4 linked regions of the Homo sapiens genome follow. The protein of the gene in region 3 interacts with the protein of the main gene of each other region in a pairwise test. Each region holds a gene or a part of one and is shown on either strand. Other genes may lie near its edges.

Region 1 (4,630 bases), on a different chromosome or scaffold from region 3:
AGTCTCTTCGAGAAAATTTAGAGCAAGCTTTTCCAACCCGTGGCCTGTGGGCCGCATGCAGCCCAGGATGGCTTTGAACACGGCCCAATGCAAATTTGTAAACTTTTCTTAAAACATTATGAGATTTTTTTTTGTGATTTTTTTTTTTTTTTTTTTTTTTTGAGACTGAGTCTTGCTCCTTCACCCAGGCTGGAGTGCAGTGGCACAATCTCAGACCACTGCAACTTCCGCCTCCCAGATTCAGGTGATTCTCCTGCCTCAGCCGTCCCAGTAGCTGGGACTACAGGTGTGTGCCACCATACCCAGCTATTTTTTTGTATTTTAGTAGAGATGGGCTTTGCATCATGTTGCCCAGGCTGTTCTCAAACTCCTGAGCTCAGGCAATCTTCCCACCTCGGCCTCCTGAAGTGCTAGGATTACAGGTGTGAGCCACTGCGCCTGCCCACGATTTTTTTTTTTTTTTTTAAGCTCATCAGCTGTAGTTAGTGTTAGTGTATTTTATGTGTGGCCCAGGACAGTTCTTCTTCCAGTGTGTCCCAGGGAAGCAAAAAGATTGGACATCCCTAGTTTAGAGCCAGATTTGTGGCCCTCCTTAGGCAGGGTCTACACTGTTGTAGGTAGGTGTGTGCATTTTCATATCCTCATTCCTCGTTCCATTACAGGTTTCTACCTTTGTGTTCTTCCTGTTACTGTAATTAACATGTCAAACCATTTCCTGTATTCTTACCTGCTGACCCAGATCTTTTCAGGATCAAGGCAGGGGATGGGGGGAGGATAGAAGAGGTAGAAGGGACTAAAAGGAAGATTGTGCATGTCAGCCTGACTCCCTCACTGGGTTGCTGAAAGGCCCGAATGAGGTGAGTGGGGGCCAACATCACGGCCATATGAGTGGGAAGTGATTGTGGTGTCACTGCCAAGTGCAAGTCATGGGTCTGGGCAGCAGGCACATGCTGGGCTGGGTCTCTCTGGCCTGTCCAGCCTCCTGTCCAGAGACAGCAGGGGCTGGTGAAGGCAAATCCTATAGCTAGGCACCAGGTATTTCCTGGCACAAGGCCCTTGGCACAGACCAGCACTGCTCCTCAGTAGTGTCCTTAGCTCACCAGGGGCTCTGGGAACTTTTGTGTTTTCTCGGGCAAGGGAGGATGACTTGAGGCCAGTACCCCTCTCAGCTCTCTTCCATTTCATGGAAAGCCCTGGATGGTTCTATTGCTTCTCTCTCCAGTCCTTCCAGGGGCCAGGAAGGCACTCAAACCAGCTTGTCCAGCAACTTTTCCCCAGGACTCTCCCTCCCTCCCACAGGATCTGCTCTATAGGGACCTGCGGTCATGGTCACCCATTGCCCAAGCAGGCCAAAAGGCTTCTTGGACTCTATACACTTTCCTGATCTTGACCTTAGTCATCCACCAAGCCCCTGTGATTCTGTGTCCTGCGTTGCCTTGGGATCTGCCCTCTCCTCTGCCACCTGGAATACTATAGACAGCCTCCACCTTTTTTTTTTTGTTTGTTTTTTGTTTTTGTGATGGAGTCTCACTGTGTCGCCTAGGCTGGAGTGCAGTGGCACGATCTGGGCTTACTGCAATCCCTGCCCCCCGGGTTCAAGCCATTTTCGTGCCTCGGCCTCCCAAGTAGCTGGGATTATAGATGTGTGCCACCACGCCCAGCTAATTTTTGTGTTTTTGCTAGAGACAGGGCTTCACCATGTTGGCCAGGCCGGTCTTGAACTCCTGGCCTCAAGTGATCTGCCCACCTCTGCCTCCCAAAGTGCTGGGATTACAGGTGTGAGCCACCATGCCTGTCCCAGCCTCCACTTTTGTCTCCCTGGCTCCCCCAGGCTTTCGTTACATTGGCACCAGGCTCTGAGAGACCCTTTTGCCATTGCAGAAAGTCCTGGTACTACCTCCCATAGTGCTGTAGCCTTACTGACCTTCTCACCTGCCAACTTGTCTGCCCAGGGTACCTGCTCCCCTTTGGTTCCTTGGCCCTTTGTTCTTCACTGGCACTTTATTTTTTTGAGACAGAGTCTCGCTATGTTGCCCAGGCTGGAGTGCAGTAGTGTGATCTTGGCTCACTGCAGCCTCTGCCTCCCAGGTTCAAGTGATTCTCCTGCCTCAGCCTCCCAAGTAGCTGGGACTATAGGTGCACGCTGCCACACCCGGCTAATTTTTGTATTTCTAGTAGAGACAGGGTTTCACCATGTTGCCCAGGCTGGTCTCAAACTCCTGACCTCAGGTGATCTGCCTGCCTCGGCCTCCCAAAGTGCTGGGATTACAGGCGTGAGCCACCTTGCCTAGTCATTCACTGGCACTTTTGTGTCTATGAAGTCCTTCCAGCTGCTGAGCAAGTGTTCCAGGCATCCTACCCTGACCTTCTGCTGCCCAATTAGGTGACCTTGCTACCCAGAGAGCACCCACACCCACCCCTCACAAGGCTGCACATACTGCCCAGGACCTGCTGCTGACTTGCTGGGTTTCCTTACAGGCTGCCACCTCTATGTCCTGAATTCTCAGGTCTCACGGTCCTGAGAGGTGATAAGTGTGCAGTAAACATGTGCTGACTGAGTGGCCCTGCCCTGGCCCAGGTGGCCATCCTCTCGCAGAGAGCGAGCCTTCAGGTCCAAGGAGACTCCCTCAGTTTGAGGAAGTGTTGCAATCTCACGGAGAGAGTGAGGGCTCACCACAACTTCACGTTGTGCATATTAGTGTTGCATTCTCCAAACCTCAATTTCTTCATCCTTGAAACTGGGGTTTTACTACCCAATACAAGGTAGAGTTGTGAGGATTACGTGAGATTGTATGTATCAGGTCCCTGATAGACAAGAAAGCTTTTGGCAATCTCCGTATCTTCTTTCCTTTCCTGAGTGTCTCACCTCATTTCCCTGGGCAAGTGGGGCTCTCTCTCTCTGTGTTGCTCCTGCCTTGCATGGTTCATTCAAGGCTACTTCCTTCCACTGCACTAATTTGCCACCCCTCTCTGTGGCAGGAGGAGTTGGAGCACCTGAACCAGGCCAGCGAGGAGATCAACCAGGTGGAACTACAGCTGGATGTGAGTGTCCTTTTCCTTATGTGCTTGGGCTGGTCCTTGGAAGTATCTCCATCTGTCTCTTTCCCAGATTGAGGCAGTGGCGGTGGGAGGGGTGTGTCTGAGAAACAAGAGGGGCTGGGACCCAAACATGTGCCTTTCCTCTGCCTTGTTCCTTTCCAGGAGGCCAGGACCACCTATCGGAGGATCCTACAGGAGTCGGCGAGGAAACTGAATACACAGGGTTCCCACTTGGGGAGCTGCATCGAGAAAGCCCGGCCCTACTATGAGGCTCGGCGGCTGGCTAAGGAGGTATGGCTGGCTGACCACGTTTGAGGAAGGCTACGTGCTGAGCCTGGCCCTGGATTCTTCTGTCTCTATATGGAGTGAGAGACAAAACACCAGACCCTGAGGGCAGAGCCCTGGGCTAGACCTGGCTGGTCGGAACCAGCTCTGTGGGCTCAGGAGGTTCCTTTACCACGTGGGCTCTGGGCTTATGGTCTATAAAATGGTGAGGGTGGCTGTGGGAGAATATTTAGTTCAGCCCTGCTAATGTTTAAGTGCCTTCTGTGTATCAGGAATCAGGCTTTAGGGTATATCAGATATGTCAGTTCTAACATCCTGTTGTTTTCATCTGCGCCCATTTCCTCTTCCCTTTGGTTCATGTCTCTCTTCTGAATCTTTTCTTTGCTTACTCCTCACTCTTTTCCCCATCCCACACCCCTTTTTTCTGTAACAAATTACTTTTAACAAATAATATGTGTTCACCATTGGAAAAACATAATAAAACAAGAAGGAAACAAAAATCACCCAAAATCCTACCATGCACGTTTCATGCATTTTGTTTCCTGGGATTTGTTGTCATCCTGTATGGTGAGGTGACAGATACAGACAACTGCCTTGGAAGAAGAGTTTGTTCCCGAGAGGAGGGGACATCCATGCCATGCAGGGCCACACGGGGAAGCAGCCAGGGTCCTTCAGGAGGCAGAAGTGAAGGAGAAAGCAAAGCGCAGCGCCTTAGTGTGGTTTTCGTGGAAAGGAGTAGGTGAGGCAGGGTAGGCAAGTTTGGATAAGTTTAGGAGTGGATAGTTGGAATAACTTTGCTAGGCCCTGGGCTATAGGGGCGGCCTCTAATTGTCTAGTACCTGGCCCTGGGATGACTTAGGGCAGAGGAAATATCGGCTTGGTCGGGGAGAAGTAGGTAAAGGAGTTAGCTGGGGATCCAGGCTTTGGATTAGGTGGTTGGTTTGCATATGAAAGGCACACTTACAGGGGAGTTTACTGTTTCTAGGAATTAGCCCTGGAAGGGGCAGTTTGTCCTTGGCCAGCAAGGTCCCCCAAGACATGAAAGCATCATAAAGTATAGAAAATAAAAATATGATTAATACAGCACAGATAACCATGTGTGCTGTATTAATCATATTTCGTGTCCTTGTATATCCAGCCAAAATGGGATTACACAGTATGTGCTATTTTGTTCTTTTATTAGCATTATGACATGGTTCCATGTCAATAACTATACATCCAAGCCGTCATTTTAAAGGACTGATTAATATTTTATTTTTTTAAGAAATGGGGTCTTGCTCTGTTGCCCAGACTGGAGTGCAATGGT
Region 2 (5,140 bases), on a different chromosome or scaffold from region 3:
TGATGGCACGTGCCTGTAACCCCAGCTACTCGGGAGGCTGAGGCAGGAGAATCACTTGAACCGGGGAGGTGGAGGTTGCGGTGAGCCAAGATCGCGCCATTGCACTCCAGCCTGGGCACCAAGAGTGAAACTCCATCTCAAAAAGAAAAAAAAAAAAAAAAGCAAGGAACACCTTTGTCTGAAAAAAGCACCCTAAATTTAGCCTAAGAACTAAGTTTTCAGCTGGGCGCGATAGCACAAGCCTGTAATCCCAGCACTCTGGGAGGCTGAGGCGGGTGAATCACAAGGTCAGGAGTTCAGGACCAGCCTGGCCAACATGGTGAAACACCGTCTCTACTAAAAATATAAAAAATTAGCTGGGCATAGTGGCAGGTGCCTGTAATCCCAGCTACTCGGGAGGCTGAGGCAGGAGAATTGCTTGAACCCGGGAGGTGGAGGTTGCAGTGAGCTGAGATCGCGCCACTGCACTCTAGCCCAGGCCACAGAGCGAGATTCCGTCTCAAAAAATTAAAAAAAAAAAGAAAACTTTTTTTTTTTTTTTTTTTTAGACGGAGTCTCACTGTTGCCGGGCCAAGAACTGAGTTTTCTAAGAAAGCTCTGCCTTTTCCTGAGTTCTCTGAAAATGTGGAAGCCCTTCCAAGAGGCCAGTTCTTTGGGAGCTGGGGAGCCATCTGGGGCCTGTGGCCATCCTTGGCCACAGTTCTCCCTCCTTGTACCCTGGTCATGTCTTCTCAGGTTGCTCCGATTTTGGGGTCTTATTTACTGGCTGATTTCCTTGCAAAGGCCAAGGCGGAGTTCAAGGTTCAGCTGGGTGAAGGGCATGCCTGGCTTCCTGAGAATTAGGAAGGGTGACTGATGGCTTGAGACACATTGCTCTGCGGCTGGATTTCATGGTTACTATTCCATCCCGGGACCTGACGCGGATCAGTCTCCCCTTTCCTGTGGCTGGAGGGGCACACTCCGTCCCTGGAGAGCGTCTGGTAGGGGCTTGTAGAGGGGCGGGGAGGACTTCCAGAGGCCCGAGGACAGGCGCCAGGCTTGGCTTCGGGGCTGGGGCAGCTGCCATGTGCTCTCAGAGCACTGAGGGAGGAGCGGGGGAGCCCGGGGGCGAGAAACCCACAGCACAGGGAAGGGAAGGGCAGCCTTGAAACTGCAAGTTGGGAGATCACGGTTTCCTCACGTGGCCACCATGAGGGCTGAGGCTGTAGGCTGGCCGCTCCTGCCCCTCCCGACCACCCCCTCAGGCTTCCAGCCTCCTTGCTCAGCCACCTAGGCTGGGCTTTCAGGTTCACAGGCAGCCGGCCCTACAACATGGAGGCCCAGGCTGGGCTTTCTTCAGGAGTGGCATCTAAACTTAGGAGAGGGGAACACGTTTCACCCGAATCTGGGCTAGCAGTGTGTTGGTTAAATGGCCCCTGAGTAGGTGTGGGGCATGGCAGAGGTGCAGGAGTGGGTGTCCGAGGATGCAGCCAACTCATCTCCAAACAGCTCCTTTTCTTTTCCCCAGTGGGCTGCATTCCCAGACTGGTATTTTAGTTGGTGTGACAGAGTCCCAGAGTCATCTGGCCCAGGGGCTTGCACCTGCGCCAGTCCTTCCCTGTCCACCCCTGCCCGTCTCCAGGCGCTCCTATAAAGGGCTGAGCAGTTCAGCTCTTCTCACTGGGGGGTGTGAGGAACAGGGGGGACCATGGACTTCATCAGCATTCAGCAGTTGGTAAGGATGTGGGACGGAGGTGGGAGGCACCCTGGGACCGGCTTGATAGGAGGAGGCTGGCTAGAGAGGGCTGGCAGCTTCTTTCTGTGGTGTGAGGGTCAAGTCTTAGGTGCAGGGAAGCATGCAGTTCTTTTATAAAAATCTGTATTTTTTGAAACGGAGTCTTGCTGTGTTGCCCAGCCTGGCCTTGAAGTCCCACGCTCAAGTGATCCTCCCACCTGGGCCTCCCAAGTAGCTGGGACTCCAGGCGTGTACCCCCACACCCGGCTGAGCGTGCGGTTCTTTCTGGTGTGTCTGCTCGGTTCTCATGTGAGGTGGTGAGGGGGTTAGGGAGCAAGAGAGGGAAGTCGAATGGGAAAGAAGACATGAAAATCCTTGAGTTCAGTGAGTTTTGCCCTGGATAGTGATGGTGAAAGAGGAACAGGAAATGGCAGGTTACTTTGGAAGATGCAAGTGTGGCTGTGGTGGTTGTAGTTCAGCTTAAGCACCATGATAGTTGTTGCTCTGGAAATGGCCAGAGGTCCTGGCTGCCTTGGGGATAGGGAAGGGTGCTCTTTCGCTCCCTGGGCAGTGAGGGAAACAGTGACTCTTAGGGATGTCGGTTTGAGTGACGAGGGGCCTGGAGGGTGTGAGGCCCAGCAAGCCCATCTGTGGGCTGCTGGCCCCAGCCTGGTGCAGCCTCTGGCGGGAGGCAAATGGCAGGGAGGTGTTAGGTTGCTAGAGTTCTTTAGAAGGAATATGGTTCTACCTGACTAGAAAGTCCTAGGATCTGTTACCCTATCATTCCACCCTGTTCTTTCCCCACAACAGGCTGATTCCTCAGTGCTCCCCAGCTCCTGAACTCCTGAGGTGGGGCCCGGTGGGAGGAAGCATGGGTGTTTGCTACGGAGGCTTTGCCCCAGGCACAGGTCCCAATAACTCATAACCTTCACAACTCCTTTAGGCAATTGCCTTAAGTGTTTGAGCTTAAATGTAGCTTCAAAAGGAGCCGAGAACTGAACCCAGGCATTTAGAATTTTACCCCGGGGGGACTTCTCTGTCCCTCTGAGCTTGGAGTCAGGTGGCAGTCAGTATGATCTGGTAGGAATCTTAACAACATGGGGGAAGCTAAGGTGTCATCTGCCCTGAGGCTACCTGGGCAAATGCCCAGCAGTATAAATAGGTTGTGGCCTCATGTCCCCCCAGCTGTGTTCCTGCTGACAGGAGCAGGGTAGGCGGGGATCCGTTGTCCCCCTGGGTGTCAGCTGATGACACAGTTGCGGAGCCTGCAGCACCCACAGGGTGAGGGAGCTTGCCAGCACTCTGGACTGCAGGAGCTTTGAGGCCGGCTCCCATCCCGGGCACCAGCCTTGTGACATCTGCCCTTATAAGACAGCTCCCTGCTACTCCACAGCTCTGTTTTCTAAGGGTTCCTCCAATTTTCCCAACTCAGTACTCATATCCTGTTCCTACAGGTAAGTGGAGAAAGAGTTGAAGGGAAAGTGTTGGGATTTGGACATGGAGTTCCTGACCCTGGAGCCTGGCCTAGTGACTGGAGGAGGGGCCCCCAAGAGGCTGTGGCCCGGGAGAAGCTGAAATTGGAAGAAGAGAAGAAGAAGAAAGTGAGAGAGGGGCGGGGGCCGGGGTTGGGGGCAGTGGCTAATCCCTGAGGCCGGCTGAGCAGTGAGGCCTGGAGGGACTCTGGTGGGGCAGCCTGAGCAGCTGGTGTCTCCTGTCGGCAGGGCAGAGAGATCTCTTGACCAGCGGCTGATGGCTGGCATGGTCTTGTCTTCTGCCCCAGCTTGAAAGATTTAACAGTACCAGATTTAATCTGGATAACCTGGCTGACTTGGAAAACTTGGTTCAAAGACGGAAAAAGCGACTGAGACACAGAGTCCCCCCCAGGAAACCTGAGCCCCTGGTTAAGGTGAGTGGGAGGTCGGGGTTAGGGCAGTGCACACACCAGGGCTCCAGTTCCAGAGGAAGGGCTTGGGGCAGAGTGGGCACTGCAGGCCAGGACCACACAGCCAGTGCCTGGGGAGCCCATTAAATCCACTCCAGAGCCCCCGCGGATGTGTCCGCCAGGGCTGCCATAACAAAGTCCCACAGCCTGGACAGCCTCAACAGCAGGCATGTGTCACCTCGCTGTCCTGGGGGCTGGAAGGCTAACAGGAAGGTGTTGGCGAGGCTGGTTCCCTCTGAGGGTGGTGAGGGAGAATCCCTTCATGCCTCTCCGGCTTCTGGTGGATGCTGGTGATCTTTGGCGTTCCTTGGCTTGTAGATGTATCACCCAACTATTGCCTTCATGTTTGCTGGGCGTTCTGCCTGTGTGCATGCCTGTGTCCATGTGTCTCCCCCAACTTTTTTTTTTTTTTTTTTTTTTTTTTTGAGACGGAGTCTCGCTCTGTTGCCCAGGCTGGAGAGCAGTGGCACGATCTCGGATTACTGCAAGCTCTGCCTCCCGGGTTCATGCCATTCTCCTGCCTCAGCCTCCCGAGTAGCTGGGACCACAGGCACCCGCCACCACGCCCGGCTAATTTTTTTTTGTATTTTTAGTAGAGATGGGGTTTCACCGTGTTAGCCAGGATGGTCTCAATCTCCTGTCCTTGTGGTCTGCCCGCCTCAGCCTCCCAAAGTGCTGGGATTACAGGCATGAGCCACCGCATCCGGCCCACGTGTCCCCTTTCATAAGGACATCAGTCACATTGGATTAGAGCCCACTTTAACACAAGTCATATTGGTGAGGGGCCCACCATACGCCGGTGTGACCTCATCTTAACTAATTACATCCTCAGTGACTCTGTTTCCAAATAAGGTCACATTCTGAGGTACCTGGGGTTAGTACTTCATACGAATCTTGGGGAGATACAAGTCAATCCATAACACACACGCTCACACACACACAGTCTATTCAATCTCCTGGCGTGGGATTAGAATAAGAAACTGCATTAGTACGAGCCAGCAGTGTTCCTTGGTGGGCTGCATGGGACCCGTGGGCCAGACTGGTGAAGCTGTGACATCTTGGGCACCTGCGGCCTTCGGGAGTGATTTGGTCTTGTCTTCAACTGAACCAGCCGCAGTCCCAGGCCCAGGTGGAGCCTGTGGGCCTGGAGATGTTCCTGAAGGCAGCTGCTGAGAACCAGGAGTACCTGATTGACAAGTACTTGACAGACGGAGGGGACCCCAATGCCCATGACAAGGTAGCACAGGTTGGGTGAGTCGGCTGGCAGCAGCTGCAGCTGCAGGAGCGCTGCCTTCAGTGTGTTCAAGTCCTGGCCTAGGAGGCTGCAGGGATTTTCACTCTTATGGGCATGAATCCAGTGGCACCTGCAGACGGAGGAGAGGGAGCGGCCCATCGCGTGGTGGGGGAAGTGGCAATTCCATTCAGGGACCTGGCCCTGGGAAGGGGACCGCGTGGGGTCTCTAGGGGTGGCTGCACTCCCTCTG
Region 3 (4,630 bases):
GCATCACTCTCTAAATTCAAATGTGTTACTTGGAGATCTCTGGATTACTTATTAATGTTACATAAATACAGGATTATGATCTCAAAATACCAGTGGCTATTCTAAAGTTTCCTCCCAGTGGTATTACTGGGTATGACAATTTAGAGAGCTGCAGAATGACAGCAACATTTCAGGTTACCTGGGAAAATCCTTGATTTTGGTCTCTTTCTCTTGAACAGCCCGGGTGCCTTGACCCTTGTTTCTCACAAAGTCTTCCTCCAGCCCAGCCTGCTTCAGGGTGTCTAGATACCACTGTTCTGCTTCTTTCTTGGCTAGATCCTGTGGGATGGAAATTAATCTGTTGTAGCTGTCTTATGAATTACCAGACAATTCTAAATTACTTAATCAGTATTGTTACAATACTGCCACAACCACCACCACCCTTATTGTGGGGCATAGATTTGCAAGAAAATTATTTAACCCTTGTTTTCCAGCCTTAATGTGTATATAAATCACCTGAGGTCTTGTTAAAATGCAGATTTCACATTTGGTAGGTGTCAGATGAGGACTGTAATTCTGTATTTCTAACACTCCCCAGAGATGCCAAACTGTTGATTTGGGAGTCACAATTTTGAAAAGCAATGACTTAGACTTTTGGGAGACAAATGAGACCCAGATTTAAAAGGATGGACTAAAAACCTAAGATTTTAAAGCAACAAACCATTATCAGGAACACTAAAATAAAATAGAAAATAAGCTACACCAAGACTCTTAGTGGAAGGACAGATGGTCTGCATGTGGACCAGCAGAATATTATTTTTTGTTTAAGTATTCAAGAACAAAATCATAGAGTACTTTGTATTTTTCCTAGAGAGGTGAAAGATCTGTTGAGATCTGAAGAGTGAGCTTGCTTAACATTAACATAAAGAAGCATGAGATTTTGAACAATGCAGGTTGCTAAGTAAATCCAAGACCATGTGTGCTTATGTGTGTGAGAGGAGAAAGATTTATGGAGGGAGGAGGAAGTGGAGCCAGCAAATGCCTAGACAATGTACTAACTATAAGATGGAGCTAATGCCCTGCCATTGGAACTAGGTCACTATGGAACCCCAACTTGTCTGAAACTGGAGAGGAAAGAGATCCACAGAGCCTAATGCAGTAGAAACAGAGCATCCTTACATCCTTACGGAGATCTCAGCTGAGTCCAACATCCCTAAAAGTCTACAGAGAATATCTTAAAATGATACTCTTCCAGGATACTTCGGGTACACTGCCTATGGGTTAGCCCTGCTCCATAAGGAACACACACTCACACACACATACACATGCATACAAAATAAAAGAAGAAAAAAAAATTTCAGGCTTCCAGCCTGAAAGCCACTTAGTCTAGAGAAAGCCTTGCAGGGTGTTTGTGGGCATCCTAATGCTTGGAGACCTATAAATATACCACAGCTCTAGAGGCTGGGGAGGCCCAGGGCCAGCAGCACTGCCAGAGGAGAGATACCTTTCCAGCACTGTGAACAGTGGCTCCAGAGCATAGAAAGAGCCAAATGGTCCCTGTGTCTCTGGGGTCTAATGCCCAGTCTGATGAAATCTGAATGGTAGACTACAGTGAAAGCTCTAGGAAGTGAAATATCCCTTTATCGATGCCTTTGGAGTCCACTCTTGGATGAAATCAACACAAGCAGCATTCTCTATTGTACTATTTATTTTGGGAAAAGAAGGTAGTAGTGAAATTAGAATTTCTGGGCCTCAAGGAAAATTTTAATACCCACATATTAAAATTGTTTTGTAATTTTTCAGAGTCCTTTTATCTAAGGCAGAAAGAAAACAAATGATGGTTTAGTTTTACCTTGGCAACTTGTTCAAAGAGATAGGGCCTTGTTTGTATTCGCTGCTTCATTTCCTCCAGTTCTTTCTTATATTCTTTCGCTCTTTTACGGTCATTGTTCCTGGAATTAGCAAGACTTTTAGAAAGAATTTCATCTTTTCTAATCCAGAATACCCTTCATTTCCAGTAAAGCAGTGTAACTCTCGTGTACACTGTAAATTCCTATCTGACTTGGAAAATCATGACCCTGCTGTGATTACAGGAGCCTACCTACCTCGATAACTCTATTTTGCATTTTCTGGCAATAGGCCAGTGGTCTGTTGGATCCCAAGGCAAGCACCCCTTTTGACACATAGAGGACACTGACCGGTTCTCTTTCAGCTTTGCTTTGAACACTTCCTCCAGGCTTTTATGGGGATCCATGGCTTTTGCACGCAAGGTCACAGATTTGGACATTGCTTGAGACTTCTTTTTGTGTATCTCCAGCCACTGAATACTCTCATCTGCTTTGTTCTTTTTTTCAAGTGCACTTCTAAAGGAAGGAGGCAGAAAAAGAGTATAGATTACCAACCTGGGTATACTGAAAAGCAATCTTAGGCCAGGTGTGGTGGCTCACACTTGTAGTCCTAGCACTTTGGGAGGCCAAGGCAGGTGGATCACCTGAGGTCAGGAGTCCAAGACCAGCCTGGCCAATACGGTGAAACCCCAGCTCTACTAAAAATACAAAAATTAGCTGGGCATGGTGGTGTGCACCTGTAATCCCAACTACTCGGGAGGCTGAGGCAAGAGAATCGCTTGAACCCGGGAGGCAGAGGTTGCAATAAGCCAAGATCGCACTGCTGCACTCCAGCCTGGGCGACAGATCAAATTCCGTCTCAAAAATAATAATAATAATAAAATAAAATAAAATAGCCGGGCATGGTGGCTCATGCCTGTAATCCCAGCACTTTGGGAGGCCGAGGCGGGCGGATCACAAGGTCAGGAGATCGAGACTATCCTGGCTAACACTGTGAAACCCCATCTCTACTAAAAATACAAAAAATTAGCCGGGTGCGGTGGTGGGCGCCTGTAGTCCCAGCTACTCGGGAGGCTGAGGCAGGAGAATGGCATGAACCTGGGAGGCGGAGCTTGCAGTGAGCCGAGATCGTGCCACTGCACTCCAGCCTGGGCGACAGTGAGAGACTCCGTCTCAAAAAATAATAATAAATAAATAAATAAAATAAAGCAATCTTAGTAACCTTTTCTGGAAAGTAAGTTGGTGTTTTTAATGAATGGGGCATGTAATTTACCTCAACTGCCATTTTTAAAAATAATAAAATTCTAGGATTAAATGCACTGGCAGATGAAGCCTTTCCAGCACTAGGGACACAGTGAGTTCCTACCCTAGAAGTGCATTTACTGAACTGGAGAAACGTCAGTTAAAATATCCTTACTTAGGTCGGGCACGGTGGCTCATGGCTGTAATCTCAGCACTTTGGGAGGCTGAGGCGGGCTGATCACAAGGTCAGGAGTTCGAGACCAGCCTGGTCAACATGGTGAAACCCTGTCTCTACCAAAACTACAAAAAAAATTAGCTGGGTGTAGTGGCACGTGCCGGTAATCCCAGCTACTTGGGAGGCTGAGGCAGGAGAATCACTAAACCCGGGAGGCAGAGGTTGCAGTGAGCTGAGATTGCGCCATTGCACTCCAGCATGGGCGACAGAGCAAGACTCTGTCTCGAAAAAAAATATATATATCCTTACTTAAACAGTCCAACATTCAATAGGTCTTCGCCTATCTGGATACAAAATAATACTAATAGCTACCATTTACTGAGCTCCTTATTATGAACCAAGTACCATTACATTTCACATTGTCCTCATAACTGCCTTATGAGGTAAATACTAAATTCCCTTTTTATAGGGGAGGTGATTGAGGCTCAAAGGAGGTAAGCCCCTTGCTCAAAGCTACCCAGCATGCCAGTGGAAAAGCCCCTATTGGACCAGGACCTCTGACTCCGAAGCCTCTGGCCTTGACCACTCTGCTGGAAACAGTGGGCTGGAAGGTGTCTGGGTTCATGGTCCTTTGGGAATACAAATCTGCACATTCAGAGAGAACTGGAAATGAGCCTCCCTCAGTGCAGACTATTTGGGTTCAACTTGTAGCACTTAGTTTGTTCAGTTATCTACAAAGTAATATGTTGAGTTCTTCCAAAAGGAAAATCAACCAAGACTCTTATATTTGGATGTTTATATTCAAATGGACATACTGGGAAGAAGGACATGAAAATTTAATCTGTTAATATGTCAGATTCCCTGTGGCTGGAAAGCAGATGTGGATGTCCTCTATAGGAAGGCCAGCCTCTTTGTTCAGGAGGCCTGTGTTCTTGGGCCCTCAGGATACTGAGCAATTAATTAGCCCTGATTTAGTAGGTCTAACTGAAGTCTGAAGAAGAAAGGAGTATCCCTTGGACCGTAAATACTCTTCTACAATCCCTGCTGTGGGGCTTAACGATCCAAGTAGGTTCTGAGTACTCCCCTACATGCCCCATGGGAAGGCAGTAAGACATTAGTCCTCTCCCTGGCCTAAGCTGCTGTTACACCATGACCTCTCTTGCCTACTTCAGCTCAGAAGCCTGGTGGAAGAACCCTTGCTGGGGGCTGGCTTAATGAGAACATCATAACAGAATCAGGTCAGTTGAAGAGTTAAAAATAAGCAGGCTCTTGCTGCCCAACAGACTCTGACATCTTCCCAAGATGAATCTCAGAGAATCTCAAATCTATGCAATGGATGTCTCATATTTGCGGCAACTTCAGCCACCTGCTAGCATGCTTCTCTGAA
Region 4 (4,630 bases), on a different chromosome or scaffold from region 3:
AGCAGGACATCCTCCCCATGAACCCAGAGAACCCCATGGGCCTATACTTCTGTTCAGTGTTCAACTGTGGCTGTGGTATTGGTTTCATGTACACAACTCTGGCATACTCTGGGGCTGTGATACAAAGGGCAGGTGCTGTAGGACAAGAAGCACAGGGTCTGGGGTCCAGGATCTGGGGTGTGAGTCTGAGTCCTGCACTTACTGGCAGCTGATAGGGTCTAAGGGCTGACATCTGGGGTTCTAATAGGACCACCCTTGAGCAAGTCATTTAATATTTCTCAGCCTGGTTTCTTCACAAAGAAGTGGAGACAACTCTTTTTTTTTTTTTTTTTTTTTTTTGAGACGGAGTCTTACCCTGTCACCCAGGCTGGAGTGCAGTGGTGCGATCTTGGCTCACTGCAACCTCCATCTCGCGGGTTCAAGCAATTCTCTGCCTCAGCATCCCGAGTAGCTGGGATTACAGGCACCTGCCACCACGCATGGATAATTTTTGTATTTTCAGTAGAGACGGGGTTTCACCATGTTGGCCAGGCTGGTCTTGAATTCCTGACCTCATGATCCACCTGCCTTGGCCTCCCAAAATGCTGGGATTACAGGCGTGAGCCACTGTGCCTGGCCAGGGACAACTCTTGCTTTGCCTATCTTACAAAGTTATGAAGTTTATTTTATTTATTTATTTATTTTGAGATGCAGTCTCACTCTGTCACCCAGGGTAGAGTGCAGTGGCGCCATCTCAGCTCACTGCAACCTTCACCTCCTGGGTTCAAGCAATTCTCCTTCCTCAGCTTCCTGAGTAGCTGGGACTACAGGCCCCTGCCACCATGCCCAGCTAATTTTTGTATTTTTAGTAGAGATGGGATTTCACCATGTTGGCCAGGCTGGTCTTGAACACCTGACCTCAAATGATCCACCCACGTCCACCTCCCAAACTGCTGGGATTACAGGCGTAAGCCACCGCGACCGGCCTGAAGTTTAAATAAGAATGAGCTGAGTGTGGTGGCGGGTGCCTCTAATTCCAGCTACTCAGGAGGCTGAGGCAGAAGAATCACTTGAATCTGGGAGGCGGAGGTTGCAGTGAGCCGAGATTGCACCACTGCACTCCAGCCTGGGTGACAGAGTAAAACTCTGTCTGAAAGCAAAACAAAAAAAATTAGATGTGCATCTGGGCGTGGTAGCTCATGCCTGTAATCCCAGCACTTTGGGAAGCCAAGGCGGGCAGATCGCTTGAGCCCAGGAGTTCGAGATGAGCCTGAGCAACATAGTGAGACTTTGCCTCTATTTTTATTTATTTATTTATTTCTGGTTTCAAACTCCTGACCTCAGGTGATCTGCCTGCCTCAGCCTCCCAAAGTGCTGGGATTACAGGCGTGAGCCACTGTACCTAGCCAATTTTTTTTTTTTTCTTGAGACAGAGTCTGACTCTGTTGCCCAGGCTGGAGTGCAATGGCATGATCTCGGCTCACTGCAGCCTCCGACTCCCAGGTTCAAGCAATTCTCTTGCCTCAGCCTCCTGAGTAGCTGGGACTACAGGTGCACGCTACCGTGCCTGGCTAATTTTTGTATTTTTAGTAGAGATAGAGTTTCACCATGTTGGCCAGGATGGTCTCGATCTCCTGACCTCGTGATCTGCCCGCCTCAGCCTTCCAAAGTGCTGGGATTACGGGTGTGAGCCACCGTGCCCGGCCTATTTTTTTTTAAATAAATAAAAAAAAATGAGATATGCAAAATACCATGTAAACTGCAATGAACTGCATAGATGTTCATTATGACAGTAGAACAGGAAAAGCCTCTTAGAACAGCCATCCTAGGAAGGCATTTGGGGACCAACAGGAAGGGCTACTGTGGGCAGGCAGGCTCAGGTGGAACAAAAGGAAGAAGTAATTCCAACAATCCATGGGGTGGGGGTGTGTGATTTATGTTGCCAGATAGATCTTGTGTTCACTCCTCTTGCTTGCTGGTGATTTTGGGCATGCCGCTTAACATCTCTGAACCTCAGTGTCTTTGCTTATAAAAGTAGGATTAGGACTACCCAAACTCCAGGGAAGTTGAGAGCCCTAATGTGAACCCAGTTGAGAAACTCTGCCCTGTAATGCTGCTCAGCTATAGTCCATGGAGCAGTAATATTCCAAACCCTAGTCCTCTATTGCTTCTCAACATTGGACAAGTGTGAGCAAAACATATGGATTAAGCAGTCGGTGAGGAGAAGGAAGAGTGTCTGCCCAGATGAGCTTGGGTGTGAGACAGTCTTGGAGACCAACAAGATACAACAGATCAACCCCAAGTGCTCACTGGGTTAAATCAATACCTTCTTATCAAGACTAATATATTATTCGCCGTGCAGTGGCTCAAGCCTGTAATCCCAGCACTTTGGGAGGGAGAGGTGGGCAAATCACGAGGTCAGGAGTTCAAGACCAGCCTGGCCAACATAGTGAAACCCTGTCTCTACTAAAAAAATACAAAAATTAGCCGGGTGTGGTGGCGGGCACCTGTAGTCCCAGCTACTCGGGAGGCTGAGGCAGGAGAATCTCTTGAACCTGGGAGTGGGAGGTTGCAGTGAGCCGAGATGGAGCCACTGCACTACAGCTTGGGCAACACAGAGAGACTCTGTCTCAAAAAAAAAAAAAAAAAAAAAAAGACTAATCAATTCTCCAAACTCTGTTCTTGCTCATGCTGGAAGCACCAGGAAAGGCAAGGTAAGCAAGAAAATTGGGGAATTCTATAAATTCTGAGAAGCTGTTGAATGGAAAAGTTCAGTAGGTAACAGATGTTGTTAGTTTTGAATATCAAAGGAGACAACATTATAAAACAGACTTAAAACAAGGCAAACCAAACACCTGCTAGGGCCTGTACACTTATCCAAAAAGCTTGGGCTTGGGCGTGATGGCTCACACCTGTAATCCCAGCACTTTGGGAGGCCGAGGTGAGCAGATCATGAGGTCAGGAGATCGGCCGGGCGCGGTGGCTCACGCCTGTAATCCCAGCTCTCAGGGAGGCTAAGAGGCGGGAGGATAGCTTGAGCCCAGGAGTTCGAGACCTGCCTGGGCAATATAGCGAGACCCCGTTCTCCAGAAAAAGGAAAAAAAAAAAACAAAAGACATGAGGTCAGGAGATCGAGACCATCCTGGCTAACACGGTGAAACCCTGTCTACTAAAAATACAAAAAATTAGCCAGGTGTGGTGGCACGCGCCTATAGTCCCAGCTACTAGGGAGGCTGGGGCAGGAGAATCGCTTGAACCCGGGAGGCAGAGGTTGCAGCGAGCTGAGATCATGCCACTGCACTCCAGCCTGGGCAATAGAGTGAGACACTCCATCTCAAAAAAAAAAAAAAGTTTAAGATGTTTTATATTAAATATTTTATGGTAACCCTCAGAGGGGAATGGGAAACATTTATATTTCTACCTCAAAGCTGGACCAAACTCAGTTATTTATTTACTTTTATTTTTATTTTTTTAAGACGTAATCTGGCTCTGTCGCCCAGGCAGGAGTGTAGTAGCATGACCTCGGCTCACTGCAACCTCTGCCTCCCGGGCTCAAGTGATCCTCCTGCCTCTGCCTCCCAAGTAGCTGGGATTGCAGGTGAGCACCACCAAGCCCGGCTAATTTTTGTATTTTTAGTAGAGATGGGGTTTCACCGTGTTGGTCAGGCTGGTCTCGAACTCCTGACCTCATGATCTGCCCACCTTGGCCTCCCAAAGTGCTGGGATTACAGACGTGAGCCACCGTACCCGGCCTCAAGCTCAGTTATTTAAGTGGTAGTAGGCAGTGGGTTTGTCAGGGTTATATCTTGGTATTCAGTGAACGCAAGCTGCTGAGTTCCATCCACCAAGTGCCAGGGTTATGAGGGTGAAAGGAGAAAAGCCGATAGGGAGGAGAAACCTGCCCCAGGAAAATGCACAATTCGAAGGTCCCTTGCAGAGGGTCCTGATGACATGTTCCACAGTGCTAAGGTCTAGCTTATCCATCATGCTGCCCCTTTTTAAAGGGAAAGGATGAGGACATCCACAGTGTCTCTAAGAGAAACAGTGAGTCTGGCCCAACATCACTAAATGCTGGTGAATAAGGAATATGGTAGATTAATGATGTTGTATTTTTTTTTAAATTTTATTTATTTACTATTTTTTGAGACAGGGTCTCACTCTCTTGCCCGGACTGGAGTGCAGTGGCCCGATCTCGGCTCACTGCAACCTCCGCCTCCCAGGTTCAAGCGATTCTCCTGCTTCAGCCTCCTGAGTAGCTGGGATTACAGGTGCATGCCACTACCGCCTGGCTAGTTTTTGTATTTTTAGTAGAGATGGGGTTTCACTATGTTGGCCAGGCTGGTCTTGAACTCCTGACCCCAAATGATGTACCCACCTCAGACTCCTAAAGTGTTGGGATTACAAGCATGAGCCACTCACTGCTCCCGGCCTGTATTATTTATTTATTTATTTATTTATTTTTTTTTGAGACGGAGTCTTGCTGTGTCTCCCAGGCAGCTGGAATGCAGTGGCAAGATCTCAGCTCACTGCAACCTCCTCCTCCTGGGTTCAAGCAATTCTTGTGCCTCAGCCTCCAGAATAGCTGGGATTACAGGCACAGGTCACCATGCCTGGCTGATTTTCTTTCTTTTTTTGAGATGGAGTCTCACTC

Evidence for each region. Proteins that work in one complex are often made in the same cells at the same time.
Region 1: the proteins of FAM161B (region 3) and SH3BP5L interact in binary tests that used the Homo sapiens proteins (3 or more experiments, as listed by UniProt).
Region 2: the proteins of FAM161B (region 3) and ANKRD23 interact in binary tests that used the Homo sapiens proteins (3 or more experiments, as listed by UniProt).
Region 4: the proteins of FAM161B (region 3) and TSNAXIP1 interact in binary tests that used the Homo sapiens proteins (3 or more experiments, as listed by UniProt).

What each region holds. Positions count from the first base shown.
Region 1 is NC_000001.11:248,815,234-248,819,863, reverse strand, and holds part of SH3BP5L (SH3 domain-binding protein 5-like), read left to right. Parts: intron 1-2,979; coding exon 2,980-3,042; intron 3,043-3,201; coding exon 3,202-3,330; intron 3,331-4,630. UniProt on the Homo sapiens protein: Functions as a guanine nucleotide exchange factor (GEF) for RAB11A.
Region 2 is NC_000002.12:96,840,540-96,845,679, reverse strand, and holds the start of ANKRD23 (ankyrin repeat domain-containing protein 23), read left to right. Parts: upstream 1-1,658; 5' UTR 1,659-1,687; coding exon 1,688-1,714; intron 1,715-3,168; coding exon 3,169-3,315; intron 3,316-3,494; coding exon 3,495-3,620; intron 3,621-4,767; coding exon 4,768-4,893; intron 4,894-5,140. UniProt on the Homo sapiens protein: May be involved in the energy metabolism. Could be a molecular link between myofibrillar stretch-induced signaling pathways and muscle gene expression.
Region 3 is NC_000014.9:73,935,771-73,940,400, forward strand, and holds part of FAM161B (protein FAM161B), read right to left. Parts: intron 2,343-4,630; coding exon 2,178-2,342; intron 1,932-2,177; coding exon 1,832-1,931; intron 319-1,831; coding exon 179-318; intron 1-178.
Region 4 is NC_000016.10:67,809,441-67,814,070, reverse strand, and holds part of TSNAXIP1 (translin-associated factor X-interacting protein 1), read right to left. Parts: intron 1-4,630. UniProt on the Homo sapiens protein: Possible role in spermatogenesis.